4 linked regions of the Homo sapiens genome follow. The protein of the gene in region 2 purifies or fractionates together with the protein of the main gene of each other region. This does not show direct contact. Each region holds a gene or a part of one and is shown on either strand. Other genes may lie near its edges.

Region 1 (4,428 bases), on a different chromosome or scaffold from region 2:
CTCTGAGATCATCTTCTTCATCTCCAGGTGGGTCTTGGGGACACCAAGCTTCTCCATCATCCTCTTTAAAGACATCAGGTCTGCCGGGGGAAAAGCAGATCTGTTAAGTGGAGATGGGCTGCTGGGGCTTAGCAGGGAAGCTGGGAAAGCTCCACTCAGGCACCCCACGCCTAGAAACTTGGCGTCTGCACTCCTTCTCTAGGGAGGAGGAGCCCATCACGCCCTCCCTGCTCTCTTTGGAGGCCGTATAGGCTAGTGGTTAGTGACCTGGGCTTCTAGAGTCAGACGGGCTTGCATTGGAATCGAGCTCTGCTATTCCTGGCTCTGGGATCTGGGGCACACTACTTAACCTCTCTGAACCCCTGCTCCCACCAACGGTGGAACGGGTGGATGGGATCATTCAGGGATCTCTGTGCAGGAAGCACCGGCCCAGAGCACTTTCTTCACACCATGACTGTGGGCTCTGCTATTTCCTGCAGTTAGGGTGGGCTGGGTGCCCACTCTCCTGCTGCCTGGGGAGTTATGCCCAGTGTGGCAGGGTCAGGAAGTCAGGCATTGAAAGTAACTCTGCTGGGTGCCGAGTGGCAGGTGGCTTCTCCCCACGTGCCACTCCTGTCCTGCTGTCCTAGGGCTCTGCCCCGGCTGGAAGGGAGAGGATGCCAAAAATATCCCACAGAGCAGGAAAACCAACAAAAGAACAAAATTCAAGAAAAACAAGGGAGGCCCCAGAATGTCACTCCAGCCCGAGGCGGTGCTGTCTCTGACCGCCCAGCTCCCACCAAGATCTGAGGCAATTTCCTTTGGATTGTTCTCCAGTGAACAATGGGTCATCTAAGGATGGCAGGAGAGGGCTGGGGTAGGGGCCATGGGCCGTGGCGCAGCCAATGCTCCTCCTGGCAAGGCGGGCGGGACTGGGGCCAGGCCCAAAGGTGCCAGGATGTCCACGCATTCAGAGAGAGCTGGGCAGCCTTCTCCAGGAAAGGGGGAAAGGGCTGCACACGCACTGCCAGACTCTGAAGTTGGCAGGACCTTTCTCGGGCAGTTCGGCAAGATGCTTCAAAAGCCTTTGACCCAGTGTCCCCTTCCTGAGATTTCCTCTACAGAAATAACCAGGGAGGTGAACAAGCACTCATGTACAAAGAGGTTCTTTACAGGATTATCAATAATAGTTAAAATTGGAAGGCATCCAAATGGTCCACACAAAGGCATCGGCTAAACAAATTAGAATCCATTCCTACAATGCAGCCATTAACTATATTTCAAAAGAAAAATCAGCTGGCGCCATGGCTCATGCCTGTAATCCCAGCACTTTGGGACGACGAGGCAGGCGGATCACTTGAGGCCAGGAGTTTGAGTCCAGCCTGGCCAACATGGTGAAACCTCGTCTCTACTAAAAATACGAAAATTAGCCGGGCGTGGTGGTGCGTGCCTGTAATCTCAGCTACTTGGGAGGCTGAGGCAGGAGAACCGCTTGAACCTGGGAGGCTGAGGATGCAGTGAGCCAAGATTGTGCCACTGCACTCCAGCCTGGGCAACAGAATGAGACTATGTCTCAAAAAAAGAAAGAAAAATCAATAATAAATCAAAATACTCACCATTGTTTTATTTCACTTATTTTTTCTGGCCGGGCTGACCAATAGAAAGTTATTTTTTTCAAGGAGGCTCAAAAATGATATAAAACAGCTTTTGTGATTAGAATAAAGAGTGGAAGGCTAGAAACGGAAATGTTTGTAGCAGTTACTTCTGGGAGGTGGGGTTGTGGGTGATGCATTTTTGTCTTTTTGTCTTGCTGTGTTTCCCCAATTTTTTTAATGATGAAAATGTGTTTATTTGATAAGCCAAATTTTTTTTTTTTTTTTTTGAGACGAAGTCTTGCTCTTGTCCCCTAGGCTGGAGTGCAATGGTGCAATCTGGGCTCACTGCAACCTCCACCTCCTGGGTTAAAGCAATTCTCCTGCCTCAGCCTCCCGAGTAGCTGGGATTACAGGCATCTGCCACCATGCCCGGCTAATTTTTGCATTTTTAGTAAAGATGGGGTTTCACCATGTTGCCCAGGCTGGTCTCGAACTCCTGATCTCATGTGATCCGCCCGCCTTGGCCTCCCAAAGTGCTGGGATTACAGGCGTGAGACACTGTGCCTGGCCAAATTTTCTTTCTAAAGAAAAAAAAAAATGATCAAAATATTCTAAAGGGAGAAGAAAAGAGAGAGGACAGAGGAAGAGGAGTAGAAATGCCGGTAGCAGCATCAATCTGAGACGCAGGATGAAATGGAAAAGGGGGAAACTGTTCAGAAACCAACGGCTGGGCCCTGGTTCACTGCCAGTGTTCCATGTAAGCAAGTCATTTCACCTTTCTTTTTGCTTTTTTTTTTTTTTTTTTTTTTTTTGAGACAGAATCTCGCTCTGTCACCCAGGCTGGAGTGCAGTGGCACAATCTTGGCTCACTGCAACCTCCGCCTCCTGGGTTCAAGCAGTTCTCCTGCCTCAGCCTCCCGAGTAGCTGGGATTACAGGCACCCGCCACCACACCCAGCTAATTTTTGTATTTTTAGTAGAGATGGGATTTCGTCATGTTGGCCAGGCTGGTCTTGAACTCCTGACCTCAGGTGATCCCCACGCCTTGGCCTCCCAAAGTGCTGGGATTACAGGCTTGAGCCATGGCGCCCGGCCCATTTCACCTTTCTGAGTCTTGCTTTCCTCATCTGTAAAATGGGGATAATTAAACCAGCCTTAACCACTTCTTTGCGGGTGAGGTCCAGGTATGGTCTCCTACCAGAACGTAAGTGCCAGTAGCTGCACAGCAGGATGCAATAAGGAGAGAATCAACGTATATAAAAGCAACTTGTCAACTGCCGAATGACATACAATGGAAAGACAGACTTCAGGGCCACTGAAATGCCAGCCAGGAGGCCCAGGGCCTGTCCACCCTGAGTGTCTCCAGCCCTGGGCAGGTGTGGCACCCTCTGTCCTGAGTCCCCGTAGCACCTGGGGTGGGAGGCTGAGGTGTGGGTGGGGAGGGAAGCAGTAGGGGATCAAAGGGTCTGGAGGAGTCTGAGGGCAGTGGTGCCAGGGCAGAAGGCAAGGGGCTGGGGCTGGCTCGGCGCAACATATTCACCAGCCTTCCGGACTGCCCCATGCCCCTCACCCGCACAGAGGGTCCCTCAAGCCCTCTACCCACTTAACACCCTCCTCCCTAAACACACTCAAGGCTTCACTCACCAATCTCGCCTTCATTGTTCAGGTCAAACTCCATGTACTTCTCTGGAAATCACAGAGCAAAAACTAGCATTAGTTTGGAAGCAGCGTCTCCCTGTGGGGACCCAGTGGCTCCCTTGTGGGCAAATGACCGTGTCCTCAGGAGTCTGAACCACCTCCCGCACCCTACCAAGGGTCTTGACCTGAGTCCCCCATCCGCTGAGCCATGGCCTCTGGGGAAAGAGCTCATCCTGCCTGGACTACTCTCCTAGAGGTGCCACGAGGGAAAGATGGCTGGGGGCCACTCTGACCCTCTTACCAGGAGGGCAGCTGCTTTCTCCCGGGTCCCCAGCAGCACAGACCAGCTGCATCTGAGTTAGTAGCAAAGTGACTAGCTCTGATTCCCTGCCCCAGGATTCTGGCTCATGGGTGTGGAAGGACAGGGTGGGGGCAGGCATGGGTGTGCTTTTTAGCGTCCCAGGCAGTTCTGATGGGCAACCGGGTGTGGGAACCACTGATTCAGGGGACCTGTGATTCTGAAACCAGGAAAAAGGCCTGCCCTAGCCCACAAAGTGGACATACAGTTTCCCGGGGTACACAGACCATCACCCCAAACCTCACACACAGACTGAGTTATACTTCCCTGATCAAGGAGTCCAGGAAAACTTCTAGCAGTGAGGGAGGATGTCGGAGCAGTGGGCTTGGTATGTTCAGATGGGAGCAGTGTGTCAAACGGACCGTGGGGCCTCTGCAGGTCACCCCCTGCCCGGGCAGAGTGGGGCCCTCATGGTCCATCCTGCCCCACAAGCAGCCAGCAGAGAAAGCCGAGGCCCTCCTGCAGGCTGTGCTGCCCCCGCCCACTCCCTGCCTGCTCCAGCTCGCTGCCCCTCTGCCTGGAATGTTCTCCCAAGTATTCTCAGCACCCTTCCTCATGGCTTCAGGGCTCCCCACCCTTTCTTTTTCTTCTTTTTTTTAGAAGGAGTCTTGCTCCATCTCACTTTGTCACACAAGCTGAAGTGTAGTGGCGTGATCTCAGGGGGGATACACAGCTCACCTAGGGCAGAGTTGGGACTTGAACCCATGTTAGTCTGGCTCCAAAGCCCCCGTTCTTAACCATTATGCTTTTTTTTTTTTTTTTTTTTTTTGAGATGGAGTCTCATTCTGTCACCAAGGCTTGAGTGCAGTGGCTTGATCTCAGCTCACTGCAACCTCTGCCTCCTGGGTTCAAGCAATCC
Region 2 (5,543 bases):
GAGGCTGCAGTGAGCTGTGATAATGCCACTGCACTCCAGCCTGGGTGACAGAGTGAGATCCCATTTCAAAAAAGAAAAAAAAAAATAGGATCAGATCAGACCCTGTACTTGCACAGCCCTCCTTCACTTGTTTCACTCTAGTTCTTAGGTCAAGAAAACTTTATTTACAAAAACAGGTGGCCAGACAGATGGCTGTAGTGTGTCCATTTGATTTTTTAAATATTTCATTAAAATATTAATTATCCCTATTAACAAATTTTTTTTTTGTGACTCCTTGAACTTTATACTGGAAGCAAGTGCCTCATTTACCTCACCCTAGTCCCAGCCCTGGCCAGTGACCAAATATTATTTTTAAAGTCATTTTAATGCCACAAAATATTTCAGAACTTGTGATGAAGTTGGGGTAGGGGGAAGTAGCAGTATGGGATCAACAGGGACCATGTCTTAGAAGAGGAAATTGATACCGATCTTAAAATAGATTGCTAAAAACATCTTAAAGACAACAACAACAAAAAATACTTAGTTACTTTTCAGGGCCATTCCCCCTCAGAAGTAAAGTGGGAGGCAGGTAAATTCCTCAACCTCATAAGGGCATCTACAAAAACCCAACCAAAGGTAAAATGATGATTAATGGTGAAAAACTGAAAGCTTTTCTCCCTAAGATCAGAAACAAGTCAAGGATGTCCAATCTCACCGCATCTAATTAACATTTTGCTAGAAATTCCATCCAGAGCAATTAGTCAAGAAAAAGAATGAAAGGCAAGCAGATTAGAAAAAAGTAAATCTCTGTTCTCAGATATCATGATCTTGTATGCAGAAATTCCTAAAGATACACACACACACACGGAGATTAGCACTAATGAACACACTCAGCAAGGCTGCAGGATACAAGATCTATATGCAAAAATTAATTCTATGTACATATACCAGCAATGAACTATCCAAAAACGAAATTAAGAAAGCAATTCCACCAAGAAGAGCTTTCAATGGAGGAAAATTAGTCTTTTTAACAAGTAGTGTTGGAACAATTAGACATCAAAATGCAACAGAATGAAGTTGGCTCTTAACTCACCCCATATACAAGAATTAACTCAAAATGGATCACAGATGTAAATTTAAGAGTTAAAACTAGAAAACTCTCAGAAGGAAACAAGGGTATGATCTTCATGATCTTCTAGATTTGACACCAAAGCATGAACAACAACAAAAAACAGATAAATTGTATTTTATCAAATTCTGAAACTTCGGGACTTCAAAGGACACTATAAAGAAAGTTTAGGCCGGGTGAGGTGGCCCACGCCTGTAATCGCAGCACTGTGTGAGGCCGAGGTGGGTGTATCACTTGAGGTCAGGAGTTCCAAGACCAGCCTGACCTCTGCCTCCTGGGATTACAGGCATGAGCCATGGCGCCCCTCTTCATTTCATTACTTTTTTTTTTTTCTGAGATGAAGTCTCACTCTGGCACCCAGGCTGGAGTGCAGTGGGGCGATCTCAACTCACTGCAGCCTCCATCTCCCAGGTTCAAGCAATTCTCCTGCCTCAGCCTCCTGCATAGCTGGGACTACAGGCACGCAACACCATGCCCAGCTAATCTTTGTATTTTTAGTAGAGATGGGGTTTCACCATGTTGGCCAGGCTGGTCTCGAACTCCTGGCCTCAAGTGAGCCACCCACCTCAACCTCCCAAAGTGCTGGGATTACATGAATGAGCCACCAAGCCCAGCTGACCCTCTTCATTTCTATGGTACACTCTCCCTCCACTTATCCTGCCCCTTTTAAAGTTCAGCCCTCCCTGCTCTGCTCCCCTACCCTCATCTCTAAGGTGAACCCTCTTTCCACTGCTCCATCAATTTCTGAGGTCCACCCTCCTTGTTCCTGCTTCTCCTTGCTCCACTCCTGCGCTTCCACATTGAAGCTCAGCTCCCACTGCTCTGCCTCTCCCCCTCTCATTTCTAAAGTGGCCCTTGGCCAGGCGCAGTGGCTCAGGCCCACAATCCCATCATTTTGGGAGGCCGAGCCGGGAGGATTGCTTGAGGCCAGGAGTTCGAGACCAGCCTGGGCAACATAAGGAGACCCAATCTCTACAAAAATTTAAAAATTAGGTGGGCATGGTAGTGAGCACCTGTGGTTCCAGCTACTCGAGAGGCTGAGGTGGTAGGATCACTTGATTGAGCCTGAGAGCTTGAGGCCACAGTGAGCCGTGATCGTGCCACTACACTCCAACCCAGACAACAGTCCCTGACCTTATCTCAAAAATAACTAACTAGGCCGGGGGCGGTGGCTTATGCCTGTAATCCCAGGACTTTGGGAGGCCGAGAAGGGCGGATCACTTGAGACCAGGAGACCAGTCTGGGCAACATGGTGAAACCTCGCTCTACTAAAAAACAAAACAAAACAAAACAAAAAAACAAAAACCTAGACAGGTGTGGTGGCGCGTGCCTGTAGTCCCAGCTACTCTGTCGACTGAGGTGGGAGGATCGCTTGACCCCAGGGGGCGGAGGCTGCACTGAGCCAAGATGATGCCACTGCACACCTGCCTGAGAAACAGAGCAAGCACGTTTCACACACACACACACACCCCTAACTAAAGTAGCCCTTTTCTGTTTTGTCCTCCTTCCCCCATTTCTACAGTTTCCTTCTTCCGTGCTCTGATGCCCTTCTCCATTTCTAAAGTCAGCTTCCATCCTCTCTACTCAGCTCTGCTCACTCCCTATCTGGCTTGGAAAGTCTATTCCCTCCCCTCCTCCCCCATTTCTAAGATGGATAATAGCAGAGGAACTGGTCCAAGTAAAATCCACTTTTTCTGGGTTTGGTGCGAATGGAGGAGGTTAGGGGCCTTGATAAAGGAGTTCTTTTTTCTAAGGTTCCACTCTCCGTGTAGAGGTCTCAGGTTAGAGACTAGAGAGCGCCAGCAAAGAAAGGCTATCCAGAGCGAATAACCACCAGCCAACAAGCAAATAAATGGACCAACCACCCCTTCGAATAACCACCAGCCAACAAAGCAGATACACCAACCCACCAACAACTCCTAGCACTACCACGCCGGGATCCCTAGTAAAATAGCCTAAGGCTTGCTCCTCCGGGCCCTGGAATCTAGTGATTTATGACATCCGCTTGGACTGAGAAGAGCACTTGGCTCCATGTGTTTGAAGGAGGCCAGTAGTTAGGTATCAATTCTTAGGAGAGTAAAATACACGTTAATAGCGGTCTATTTTCTCCGCCTGCCCCTTTCAGCAATCCTTAATCCCCACGCGCTTCTGGTCAGCCTCCCTCAGTTCCCCACCTGAAAGGAGAGGGCTGGAGGTGAGGAGAAAAAGAGGAGAGGAGGGATAGGGGCCAAGTGGTCCCAGGGTTCGTCAGGGTGGGGCAGGTGCGGAGATGCCCTGAAGGGGAAGCCTCTCCTCGAACTGGTGTGTTCCTCCCGACGCCACTTCTAGTAAGCGCTATGCCGAGGTCTTGCGCTCAAGACCAGTGAGCCCAAACTAGTGGAGACTGGGATCCGAGATCTACATACCTAGAGACATATCTAGGAAGTTAACCTTTTTCCGACTGGGATGATTTGGCGGCACTTTTTCAGAAAGCGTTAGCTTCCGAAACGAAGCCATCTTCCCTGCATCATGGCGCCACACACTCCGAGGTAGGGCGCGTGTACCACCCCCTCACCGCGCAGGAGGAGCAGAGTGGTGGACTAACCTGATCCTCCAATCATAGCCTCTCCCTTCGGTGTTGCTAAGCCCCAAGGGGTGGAGCTTGGCGTTACCCCTCACCAAGTCTCCTATCAGGAGCTTGGCTCGCTAGAAGAAAAAAAAAGGAAAGACCCGCCCATCTCCCACCCGATACCCCTTTCTAAAAATATTCTCTCCACCTAGAGCACTATGTAGTTGGCTACAAGTTTCTAGTGTATGTGGTGTTCCGGCCCTTGCCTTTCACAGTTCCTAGGACCCATTTCTCCTCTTTGCTGTTGACATTCATGGCGAATAAAACCTTATAATCTTGACTTAATGGGCTGATGCTCTGCTTCTCTCAAATTCCAAGAGGGAGCACAAATTTAACATCTAGGGAGGATTCACAGGTTTGCAATGCCACACGCTTTCTTTTCTGTCTTTCTTTTCGTTTTTGTTTTTTGTTTTTTGTTTTTTTGAGACACAGTATCTCTTTGTCACCCAGGCTGGCGTGAAGTGGCGCCAACTCCGTTCACTGCAACCTCCGCCTCTGGGGTTCAAGCGATTCTCCCACGTCAGCCTCCCAAGTAGCTGAGATTACAGGAGCGCGCCACCACGCCTGGCTAATTTTTGTGTTTTTAGTAGAGATAGGGTTTCACCATGTTGGCCAGGCTGGTCTCCTGGGCTCAAGTGATCTACCCGTCTGTGCTACCCTCATACCACAGCGCCCACACTTTCCCTCCCTCCCTCTGTCCCTCCCTTCCTTCTTTCCTTCCTTCCTTCCTCCCTCCCTCCCTTCCTCCCTCCCACCCTCTCTTTCTTCTTCCTAACTTCTTTCTTTCCATCTGCCTTGGCATCCCTCCCTCACCGCACCTGGTTATTTCTTTTCCTTCCTTCCTTTCTTCCTTTCTTTCTTTTCTTTCTCTTTCTTTTCTTTCTTTCTTTCTTTTTCTCTTTCTTTCTTTTCCCTTTCTTTCTTTTTTTCTTTCTTTCTCTCTCTCTTTCTTCCTTCCTTCCTCTCTTTCTTTTCCTTCCTTCCTTCCTCCCTCCCTCCCTCCCTTCCTTCCTTCTTCCTAACTTCTCTCTTTCCACCCGCCTCGGCCTTCCTCCCTCACCACACCCGGCTATTCCCTTCCCTTCCCTCCCCTCCCCTCCCCTCCCCTTCCCTTCCCTTCTCTCCCTTGCTTCCTTGCTTCCTTCCTTCCTTTTTTCCTTCCTTCCTTCCTTTCTTTTTCTTTCTTTTCTTTCTTTTCTTTTTTCTTTCTTTCCTCGATCTGTTGCCAAGGTTGGCATGCCTTAACCTCCCAGGCTCCTCTTGGGCTGTAGAGATGGGGATCTCACCATGTTGGCCAAGCTGATCTCAAACTCCTGGCCTCAAGCAATCCTCCCACCTTGGCCTCCCAAAGTGCTGGGATTACAGGCATGAGCCACCATACCCGGCCTGCCACATGCTGTTCAATGACCTTGAAGATGTGTCCATGACATTTCTTAAGAAAAATGTAATTGTTCTTGTTATCACCTAATACTGCTCAATCAAATGCTACTTTAAAATATTAGAGAAATCTTGTCACTGGCTCTTCAGTAGAAATAAAAATCAAATTAATACATTTTCAAAGGTAAAAATATGTTCAAGCTATTACAGAATCCACAACATAAATAAATGCCGGAAGAGATTTTGAAAAATGTAAATTATTTAACTATTTATTGTATTTAAGTAAATGCTTCGCACCTGGGACCTAAAGATTAATAAATAAATCTGTTTCTCCATGCATATACAATTGCCTGAAGACAATAAATGCATGCAAAATATTAATTTAGGTGCTGTAATTTAGTCTGTCAACAAATACTGAGCTCCTGCTGTGTTAGGTTCTGAGGATACAGG
Region 3 (4,428 bases), on a different chromosome or scaffold from region 2:
CATGCTACGGTCTGAATGTTTGTGCCCGCCCCCCCATTATTCATTTGTTGAAACTTTATCACCAATTTGATGGCATATATTAAGAAAGTCACTGCACTCTTCCTCTTCTTCCTCCCTTTCCTTTCCTTCCCAAACAACTCAGTCCAAAAGTCACTAGGCCAGGCTGAATAAGATGGTACCTGCTGTAGTGTTGGAGCCCAGGGAGGGTAAGGAGGGTGTTGGTGAAGGGTCGTGGCAGTGGCCACCTGGAAAATGATGTCGGAGCCCAAGTTTGGTGAGGAAAACAGGAGACTGGTTATACTGGAGTGTGGGGGAAGGAGGGCTAGTTAAATAATAAACATATTACAGATAATAAAAACTAAGTATCTTTTGTCAAGAAGGTGGTCACAAATATGGAAAGGGAGAAAGTATGAATGAACTTTTTATTAAATAAGAATTAAAAAGCATCAGGGCAAACTCATGGTTTTCAAGAGAGATGTGTGTAATTTCTAATTCTGTCCACTGAGAGTGCCTGGGGCTAGTGACAATGCAATAACAATGAGCACAGCTAGCACTCAGATCTTTGTTTCTAAATACCATTCTCCATCATCAGAAACTAGTGCTCTTCAGAGAGACGACCGATTTCAGGGTTGGGAAAGTATAAGATGAAACTGGAATATCTTGCGATGCCAGAAATTGAGGAAGCATTCAAAGGAAAACGGGGACATCTCCAAAGGACATACAAGTTAGCCAGAAAGGGCTCCCGTGAGCTGTAACTGAACAAGTTGCGGATAAAAATAATAAAAGAAATGGATTATAATCCATTGAATATCACAGGAATCCATTGAATATCACAGGAATCCATGAGATCATACCGACATAAATAAATGAAGTTTGATAAGAAATGGGGTGAAAATTGCAGAATACCACAGTATTGCCCTACAAAATGTATATTAATTACAAAAGAAAAAAGTAACTACTGTGCAGAAGGCTGGCAGACACTCCCTCAATGGAGTGATCATAATCAATATTAAGTGATCAGAGTTGACACCTGTCACCATAATGGGACAAACTAATACCACGTGCTACCTGTTTGGATACAGTGAGAACACAGCATCAATTTGGTGGTATTCCTACCAAAGATGCACAACCTGAAAATCATCATATGAAAACATCAGAGACCCACATTAGGGAGCAGTCTACAAAATTGGGGGTGATGGGGCATCATGTTGGCAATTTACTCTCAAATGATTCAAAACAGAAAGACATTTGTACTGTACTTGGGAACTTTTCTTTAGGTTGGAGATTCTTTCCAATTTTAAAAAGTTAATGAGAAGAGTGACCTTGAGTCATTGTAGGTTTGATGGAAGCCAAGTGTCAAGATAAGATTAAGATATGGATGGACCAAGATAAGTGTCAACAATTATCCTTTAGGGTAACGATTCTTAAATTTTCTCTGGTGAAGCATCAGTTTTTCCCCACCAGTCCATTATGAAGCAATAGTTTTGTAAAATACAAAAATCCCACGCTTGGATTTCAGGACAATATCACATTGCAATAGGAGTTTTCAAATGCTTACTCTCGATGTCTGAACTTAGAATGAACCAGTAGCAAATGATTCCTGGACTAGCTTGGACCACGCTTTGAGCAGCGTTTTCCATAGCTGAAGATCTGTGGATCCCTGATTGCTATCACATTCACATGGAAAATAAAAACAACTGGTCACACTGTTATCCATATGGTAGCAATAATAATTAGCACTCTAATTAACATCAACCATCTATACAAAGTATTCAAAAAAGGGACCACCCAGGCAATATGAAGGGATTAAAGACCTGCCTTTGTGAAGAGTAATTCAACTTTTCCAAATGGGTCACATGACAAGAACAGATGCGTCCACTCCTGATTCCAAAGTAGTTGCTTTGTGGTGACTTAAGAAGAAAAACCCAGTTACACGGAAGATGAACAAAAGCATTTTGCATGGACCAGTCTGCAATGCCATGCCATGACTATCATTGCTGGGAAGGAAACCAGCATTCAGAAGGGGTTAGTTAGTAGAGGACAACTCCCAAATCAGATGGGTTTAACTAGATACTGAGGGTCAAGCTACTGATTCCAACATAGTCCACACATGGGTCCACTCTGGTTCTATGCCACAAACAGCCTCTCCTTCAGACAAGAGGCAGGCTTTCAAGTAAAAGAGAACAATTCTTTATAATAAACCAAGGCCAAAGCAGAACAACAAAGAAGGAGCTATTGCATCCTCTGGAAAGTGGCAAACTCCATGCAAGCTCAGGGTTCTTCTAGAGGACACTCTTGACACTTTTGTTGCATGTCCCTGTATGCTGGAATTCTCATGCCAGTGTCCCCCCAACACTTATTCCAGACACACACAGAGGAGGCTCCACATAGAAACCCATGAGCTGGAATCAACAACAACAGACTGCTGTGGCATCTGTCTCTCATGTGAGGCACCTCACTTACCTGGAGCAGTTTTGTAGCATGTTCTGGAGGGCAGTGATGGGGCATTCTTTGTCCTGGGGCTCTGCGTACTCTGCAAGACTTGTCTCTGCCTCTTCAGCTCCTCTTCCCTTTCCTGAGCTGCTCGGATCTCTTCCTCAATCATGGACAAAGTCCGCTGTTTCCTGGACCTCAGCTTGAAAGGCCCAACCATCACGTCAGATTCTTGAGTGGCCAGGAGGGAGGCTGTGCTTCTCAGCTCAGCTGCCTCCGAGTACTTGCTGAAATAGCTTCCTTCGGGCCTGGTCTCCTCCATGTTAATCGGGCCACTGGGCTGCACAGCTGGCAGTGGCTGGGGGGGCCCCCTTTCCCTGAGCGCCCTGTCTTCAGCAGGCAGAATCTTTGGTAATACATCCCTTTTCTCTTGAACAGGAGAAGACACCTGAGGTGGCTCAAACATGCTCTGAGGCTTTTCTGAGCCGAAAGCCGCAGCTTCAGCTTCCTCTACAGTCGCTTCAGGTCCCTGTTGCTCTGCTCCATCCCTGCTGGTTTTGGACACAGCTTTATCCACCTGCTCGGCTATGGCTTGTTGAATGGCATTCTGCACCAGGAGGCCAGCCTGATACTCCAAGGGGTCATCAACCAACGGAGAGTCCCCCAGCGTGGAGGAAGGGGAATAGAAACCATGATCACTAAATGACTTGGAGACGCCTTCTCCTCGGCCCTCTGAGGGGTTGTCAGTTTGTGGTGTCTGGGGCAGAGAAAAATCAGCCAGTGAATTTTCCTGGAGGGCATTGGTTGTCTCATTGGATGCCCCGCTGTCACTGATGTTGTCCATGCTGAAATCATTGGATAGGGTCTCCAGGACTGTGGTATCCTGAGACCTCACCGACAATTCGTCCAGACCAGAGTCAAGCTCCTCTTGGGTCAAGGAGACATTGACAGATCTTGAGAACTGATCCAAAATCCCATGGTCATCATCCTTGACCACAGTGAGGACAGCCCGGGCGCTCGTAAATTCTCCATCCTCAGCCCACAGTTTAGATAAGGGCCCACGTTTAGAAGGCTCGCTGTAGGGCCCTTCCTTCCCCTGAGAGGCTGTGTTGCCCTGGCTTCCTGCTGCCGATGGGGTCTCCAGGGCACCGGGGGATTTCTGTCCCTTGGCGGCTGAGGCACCACTGTCTTCTGGAGGTCCCCCGACAGAAGGTGGTCTCGGATTAGTCAGTGGCTTGTCTGAGTTGACTGACCCCAGAGGCCTGTAGAAAGGCTTGATGGAGAACAGCCTGGGTGTACTCTGGCCCTTGGCCACCGCTTGCCTGGAATTCTCCATCAGCTGAAATTGTTTGCGAGCAGCAGAGAAATCTATCTGCTCTGTGACAATGTCCTCCTTTGCTTTGTCAATCATGCTTGCGCGTTCATGAGAAGAGGCAGGGGCTGTGCAGAGCTGCGATGGGGGCTGCTGCTGCTGCTGCTGTAACTGCTTCTGCAGCAGCAACTGTTCCTGCTGTGCCCTTCTCTCTTTGCGCTCCTTGTACTTTTTGTGCGACTCCAGATGTTCCTCGTCCAGCTGCTCCTCGATGGTTTTTTCCTGCGGGGGATTCCACCATTTTGCTGCAATGCCAGGATTCTTCTTGACGGCCTGGCTGCGGATGAGCTCTCTCCTCTCCTTTTCCAGCTCCAGCATCTCCTCTGAAGGCCTCACTTTTCTAATGCAGTATTGTTCTTTCTCATGCTCGTCATCCTCAAAGAGCTTGGAGGGCTTCTTGTCCTCATGGAAGGCACGCAGCTCAAACTTGGCCTCCTTTTTCAGTGTGGTGAGAGTGAACTCTCCATCTCGGGAAGAACACCGTGAGCTGGTTGTGGAGCTGGGGCTGACAGGCACCTGCAGGCTGTCCCCCAGCGCATCTCTAGGCTGGCTGGGGGAATGGCCATTTGTTCTTTCTGCCTCTGCCATGGGGTCAGGGCTGCTATTACTGAGCTCGATGTGAG
Region 4 (4,428 bases), 8.4 Mb from region 2:
GTCTAGGTAGGAGTTTGCAACACTGATGCAACCTCTTCCCCGCAACCATTGGAAGGCTTTTTGCAAAAGACATGCATTAAGATTGTTAAATAGAAATGAAACTATTGAAAATGTGAGGAAGCAAGTGCATTGTTATAAGGAGAAGTTTTTTTTTTTTTTTTTTGAGACAGGGTCTCACTCTGTTGCCCAGGCTGGAGTGCAGTGGCACGATCTTGGCTCACTGCAGCCTTGACCTCCTGGGCTCAAGTGAATAAGGAGGAATTTTAAACAATTATTTTATTTCTCTTTCTTTCTCATCCTTTCCTTTTCCTTTCCTCTTTTTCTTTTTTCTCTTTTTCTATATGAAGGAATATTTGAAATTGCATTTTAGTAGCCCGAGTACAAAGGGAAAGATGAGTTACTTTATTCTGTTAAATTCTTCTTTCAAAGACATGGTGCTTCCTGCTATTATTATTATTATTTTTTTTGAGACAGAGTCTCACTCTGTCGCCCAGGCTGGAGTGCAGTGGTGCGATCTCGACCCACTACAACCTCCGCTTCCTGGGTTCAGGTGATTCTCCTGCCTCAGCTTCCTGAGTAGCTGGGATTACAGGCATTGGCCACCAAGCCCGGCTAATTTTTGTAGTTTTAGTAGAGACGGGGTTTCACCATATTGGCTAGGCTAGTCTCAAACTCTTGACCTCAAGTAATCTGCCCTCCTCGGCCTCTTAAAAGTGCTGGGATTATAGGTGTGAGCCACGGTGCCTGGCCCCTGCTATTATATTCTAAAGAGAATTGACCCTATAAGGGAAATGAGAACCCAAAGAGGGAATTGTTTTAATACTTCATAGTAAATATTGAAGCAACCTTGATATACTTATATATCTCCTCTCCACAAAAGACCTAGATGGCATTTTTAGGTTATATCTTCTGATGCTAGTCTGAAGCAGATGTTATTTCTGTGTTGCCTGGTGGAAGGAAGATTGATTTTGTTTTATATTCCAGATAAACTTATGTTAGGTTTAACGTATTTTGTGAAATTAGAAGCTTAATCGTGGTTTTTTTTTTTTTTTTTTTTTTGAGATAGGGTCTCACTCTGTTCCCCAGGCTGCCCAGGCTGGAGTGCAGTGGTACTACGATCACCACTCACTGCAGCCTCGACCTGCAGGCTCAAGTGATCCTCCCAGCTCAACCTCCCAAGTAGCTGGGATTATAGGCATGTGCCACCACACTTGGCTACTTTTTTTTTCTATTTTTTTTTTTTTTTTGTAGAGATGGGGTCTCACTTGTTGGCTAGGCTGGCTAGGCTGGTCTTGTACTCCTGTGCTCAAGTGATCCTCCCACTTCGGCCTCCCAAAGTGTTGGGATTACAGGCATGAGCCAGCATATCCAACTTTAACCAGTGTTCTTAACCAACCACTGTTCTCTTCTCAACCCATTAGAAGGCCTGTCTAGTTCTCCAGGGAAGTAGTTGAAAGTACTTGGGATCAAACTTAAACCAGCTTACCATTTGTAAGGTACTCTCAGAATAATTTTTTTAGTGAGAAATGTTTAATAGCTAAATGACATTTTCTTTCTTTGTTTTTGTTTTTGAGATGGGATCTTGCTCTGTCACCCTGGAGTGCAGGCTGGAGTGCAGTGGTGCGATCATGGCTCACTGGTGTGATCTTGGCTCACTGCAGTCTCAACTTCCTGGGCTCTGGCGATCCTCCCACCTCAGCCTCCTGAGTAGCTGGGCCCACAGGCGCGTGCTACCATGCTCTGCTAATTGTTTGTGTTTTTGGTAGAGACAGGGTTTCACCACGTTACGAGGCTGGTCTTGAACTCCTGAGCTCAGGTGATATTACCAGGCTGGTCTCGAACTCCTGAGCTCAAGTGATTCACCCACCTTGGCCTCCCAAAGTGCTGGGATTACAGACGTGAGCTACTATGCCTGGCCTGACATTTTCAAACTAAATATTTAATTTAGTAGATGCTCTCCATTGCCCTTATTTTTTATTTTTATTTTTTCTGAGACAGAGTCTCGCTCTGTTGCCCAGGTTGGAGTGCGGTGATGCAGTCTTGGCTCACTGCAACCTCTGCCTCCTGGGTTCATGCGATTCTCCTGCCTCAGCCTGTAGAGTAGCTGGGATTACAGGTGCGCACCACTGCGTCCAGCTAATTTTTGTATTTTTAGTGGAGACGAGGTTTCATCATGTTGGCCAGGCTGGTCTCAAACTCTTGACCTCAACTGATCCACCCACCTTAGCCTCCCAGAGTTCTGGGACTACAGGTGTGAGCTACAGTGCCCGGCTTCCATTGCCTTTTTATTTTTTGGTTTTGAACATATTTGTGAAACCTAGAAGTGAATTGTTGACCAGCAAAAGTTTACTCTGTTGACTTTTAATAACCTTACCCTGCTCATCCTGATGATAGGGTATTGACATAATCAGAAGGCACAGAGGTGAGCTGCAAGGTTATGTATAATCTGCAAAGTAGATAATCTCTCTGTGGATGATTGTAATCTGGCATCTTATTTAGCCTTAGATGTGATATATAAGCAGGTTCTGTAAGTCTTAAAATTATTTGTTTCATTGACTAGAAAAAGGATTACTAGATATAAAAGAGTAAGAAACTCTTCTATATGAATTCATTGGCTCTCTTTAAAGCCTTGTGCAACATGGAAGAATTTTTTTCTAAATTGTGAAATGTAATGAAAATACAGAGAAGTCATGAAACCTCAATATAGAGCTTAAAATAATCACTGTAAGATGCACCCCCATGTAACTTACACCCAGGTCAAGGCAACATACTGTTTGTTCCCGATCAAACCTTTCCCACCTCTCATGTAGTAAACATTATCCTGACATTTATGGTTTTCCTCTTGATTTTTCTCTTTTTTTAACCTTGCATCTTCAACTCAAAGAAACTTTCTTGATTTTCTTTGCAGTGTCATTACCCAATATGTTTAATTTTTTTCTTGAACTTCATATAAATGAAATCATTGAATATTTATCCTACTGTTTCTGGCTGCTTTTGTTCAACAGTTATGACTTTTAAGATTCATCCATATTGTATGTTTGCAGTTCATTGATTTTCCTTTTTTTTTTAGTTCATTCATTTTCATAGTTGCAAGATACTCCATCGTATACCAGTATTTGTTTATTTTTATGCTGTCTTGTTAAACATTTTTGTTGCGTCTAGTTTTTGGCTATTACTAACAGTGCCAATAGAAACATTATTATACAACAGTTTTGGTGTATACAAGCATGTGTTTTTGTGGAGTATATACTAGGTGTAGAATCTCTGGGTTATAGGTTACACTTTAGCTCTGTTAGATATTGCCAGGCTATTTCAGTGTACACTCCCACCAGCAGTGTATGAGTTGACCTTGTTTCACATTGTCACTATGTTTGATATTGTCAGACTTAAATTTTTTGTAAATATGTATGTAATTTTACTGTGGCTTATATTTCCATGAGCATCTTTTTATATGTTATTGGTCATTTGGAGTACTTCTTTTTTTTTGTTTGTTTGAGACAGAGTCTTGCTCTGTCGCCTAGTTTGGAGTGCGGTGGTGGCGTGATCTTGGCTCACTGCAACCTCTGCCTCCCGAGTTCAAGCGATTCTTGTGCCTCAGCCTCCTGAGTAGCTGGGATTACAGGTGTGTGCCACCACACCTGGCTAATTTTTGTGTTTTTAGTAGAGACAGGGTTTCACCATGTTGGGCAGGCTGGTCTTGAACTCCGGACCTCCGATGATCCGCCCGCCTTGGCCTCCCAAAGTGCTGGGATTACAGACGTGAGCCACCACGCCTGTACTGGAGTTCTTATTTCTTTTTGTGAAAGGTCTCTGTCATATCTTTTGCCTTTTTTGTTATTGAGTTGCTTGAGTTTCTTTCACTGATTTGTAGGGGTTCTTTATATAGTCTGTATTTGAGCCCTTTTTGGGTTACACTGCATGTGTTACAACTGTCATTTTTTTTTAATTTTAAGTTCTGGGATACATGTGCAGAATGTGCAGGTTTGTTACATAGGCATACATTTGCCATGGTGGTTTGCTGCACCTATCAACCTGTCATCTAAGTTTTAAGCCCCACGTGCATTAGGTATGTGTCCTAATGCTCTCCCTCCCCTTGCTCCCCAACCCCCAACAGGCACCAGTGTGTGATGTTCCTGTCCCTGTGTCCATGTGTTCTCATTGTTCAGCTCTCACTTATGAGTGAGAACATGTGGTGTTTGGTTTTTTTGTTCCTGTGTTAGTTTGCTGAGAATGATGGTTTCCAGCTTCATCCATGTCCCTGCAAAGGACATGAACTCATCCTTTTTTATGGTTGCATAGTATTCCATGGTATATATGTGCCACATTTTCTTTATCCAGTCTATCATTGATGGGCATTTGGGTTGGTACCAAGTTTTTACTCTTGTGAATAGTGCTGCAGTGAACATACGTGTGCATGTGTCTTTATAG

The links.
Region 1: the proteins of LUZP4 (region 2) and AIF1L purify together in Homo sapiens (affinity purification with mass spectrometry, with the first as the bait; one large-scale study listed by BioGRID). This does not show direct contact.
Region 3: the proteins of LUZP4 (region 2) and PALM2AKAP2 purify together in Homo sapiens (affinity purification with mass spectrometry, with the first as the bait; one large-scale study listed by BioGRID). This does not show direct contact.
Region 4: the proteins of LUZP4 (region 2) and THOC2 purify together in Homo sapiens (affinity purification with mass spectrometry, with the first as the bait; one large-scale study listed by BioGRID). This does not show direct contact.

What each region holds. Positions count from the first base shown.
Region 1 is NC_000009.12:131,113,408-131,117,835, reverse strand, and holds part of AIF1L (allograft inflammatory factor 1-like), read right to left. Parts: intron 3,260-4,428; coding exon 3,218-3,259; intron 81-3,217; coding exon 1-80. UniProt on the Homo sapiens protein: Actin-binding protein that promotes actin bundling. May neither bind calcium nor depend on calcium for function.
Region 2 is NC_000023.11:115,287,821-115,293,363, reverse strand, and holds the start of LUZP4 (leucine zipper protein 4), read right to left. Parts: upstream 3,650-5,543; 5' UTR 3,605-3,649; coding exon 3,514-3,604; intron 1-3,513. UniProt on the Homo sapiens protein: Export adapter involved in mRNA nuclear export in cancer cells. Binds and enhances the RNA-binding activity of the nuclear RNA export factor NXF1. Can restore mRNA export function in cells compromised by loss of mRNA export adapters.
Region 3 is NC_000009.12:110,136,575-110,141,002, reverse strand, and holds part of PALM2AKAP2 (PALM2-AKAP2 protein isoform 3 (PALM2-AKAP2)), read right to left. Parts: coding exon 2,464-4,428; intron 1-2,463. UniProt on the Homo sapiens protein: Binds to regulatory subunit (RII) of protein kinase A. May be involved in establishing polarity in signaling systems or in integrating PKA-RII isoforms with downstream effectors to capture, amplify and focus diffuse, trans-cellular signals carried by cAMP.
Region 4 is NC_000023.11:123,722,248-123,726,675, reverse strand, and holds part of THOC2 (THO complex subunit 2), read left to right. Parts: intron 1-4,428. UniProt on the Homo sapiens protein: Component of the THO subcomplex of the TREX complex which is thought to couple mRNA transcription, processing and nuclear export, and which specifically associates with spliced mRNA and not with unspliced pre-mRNA.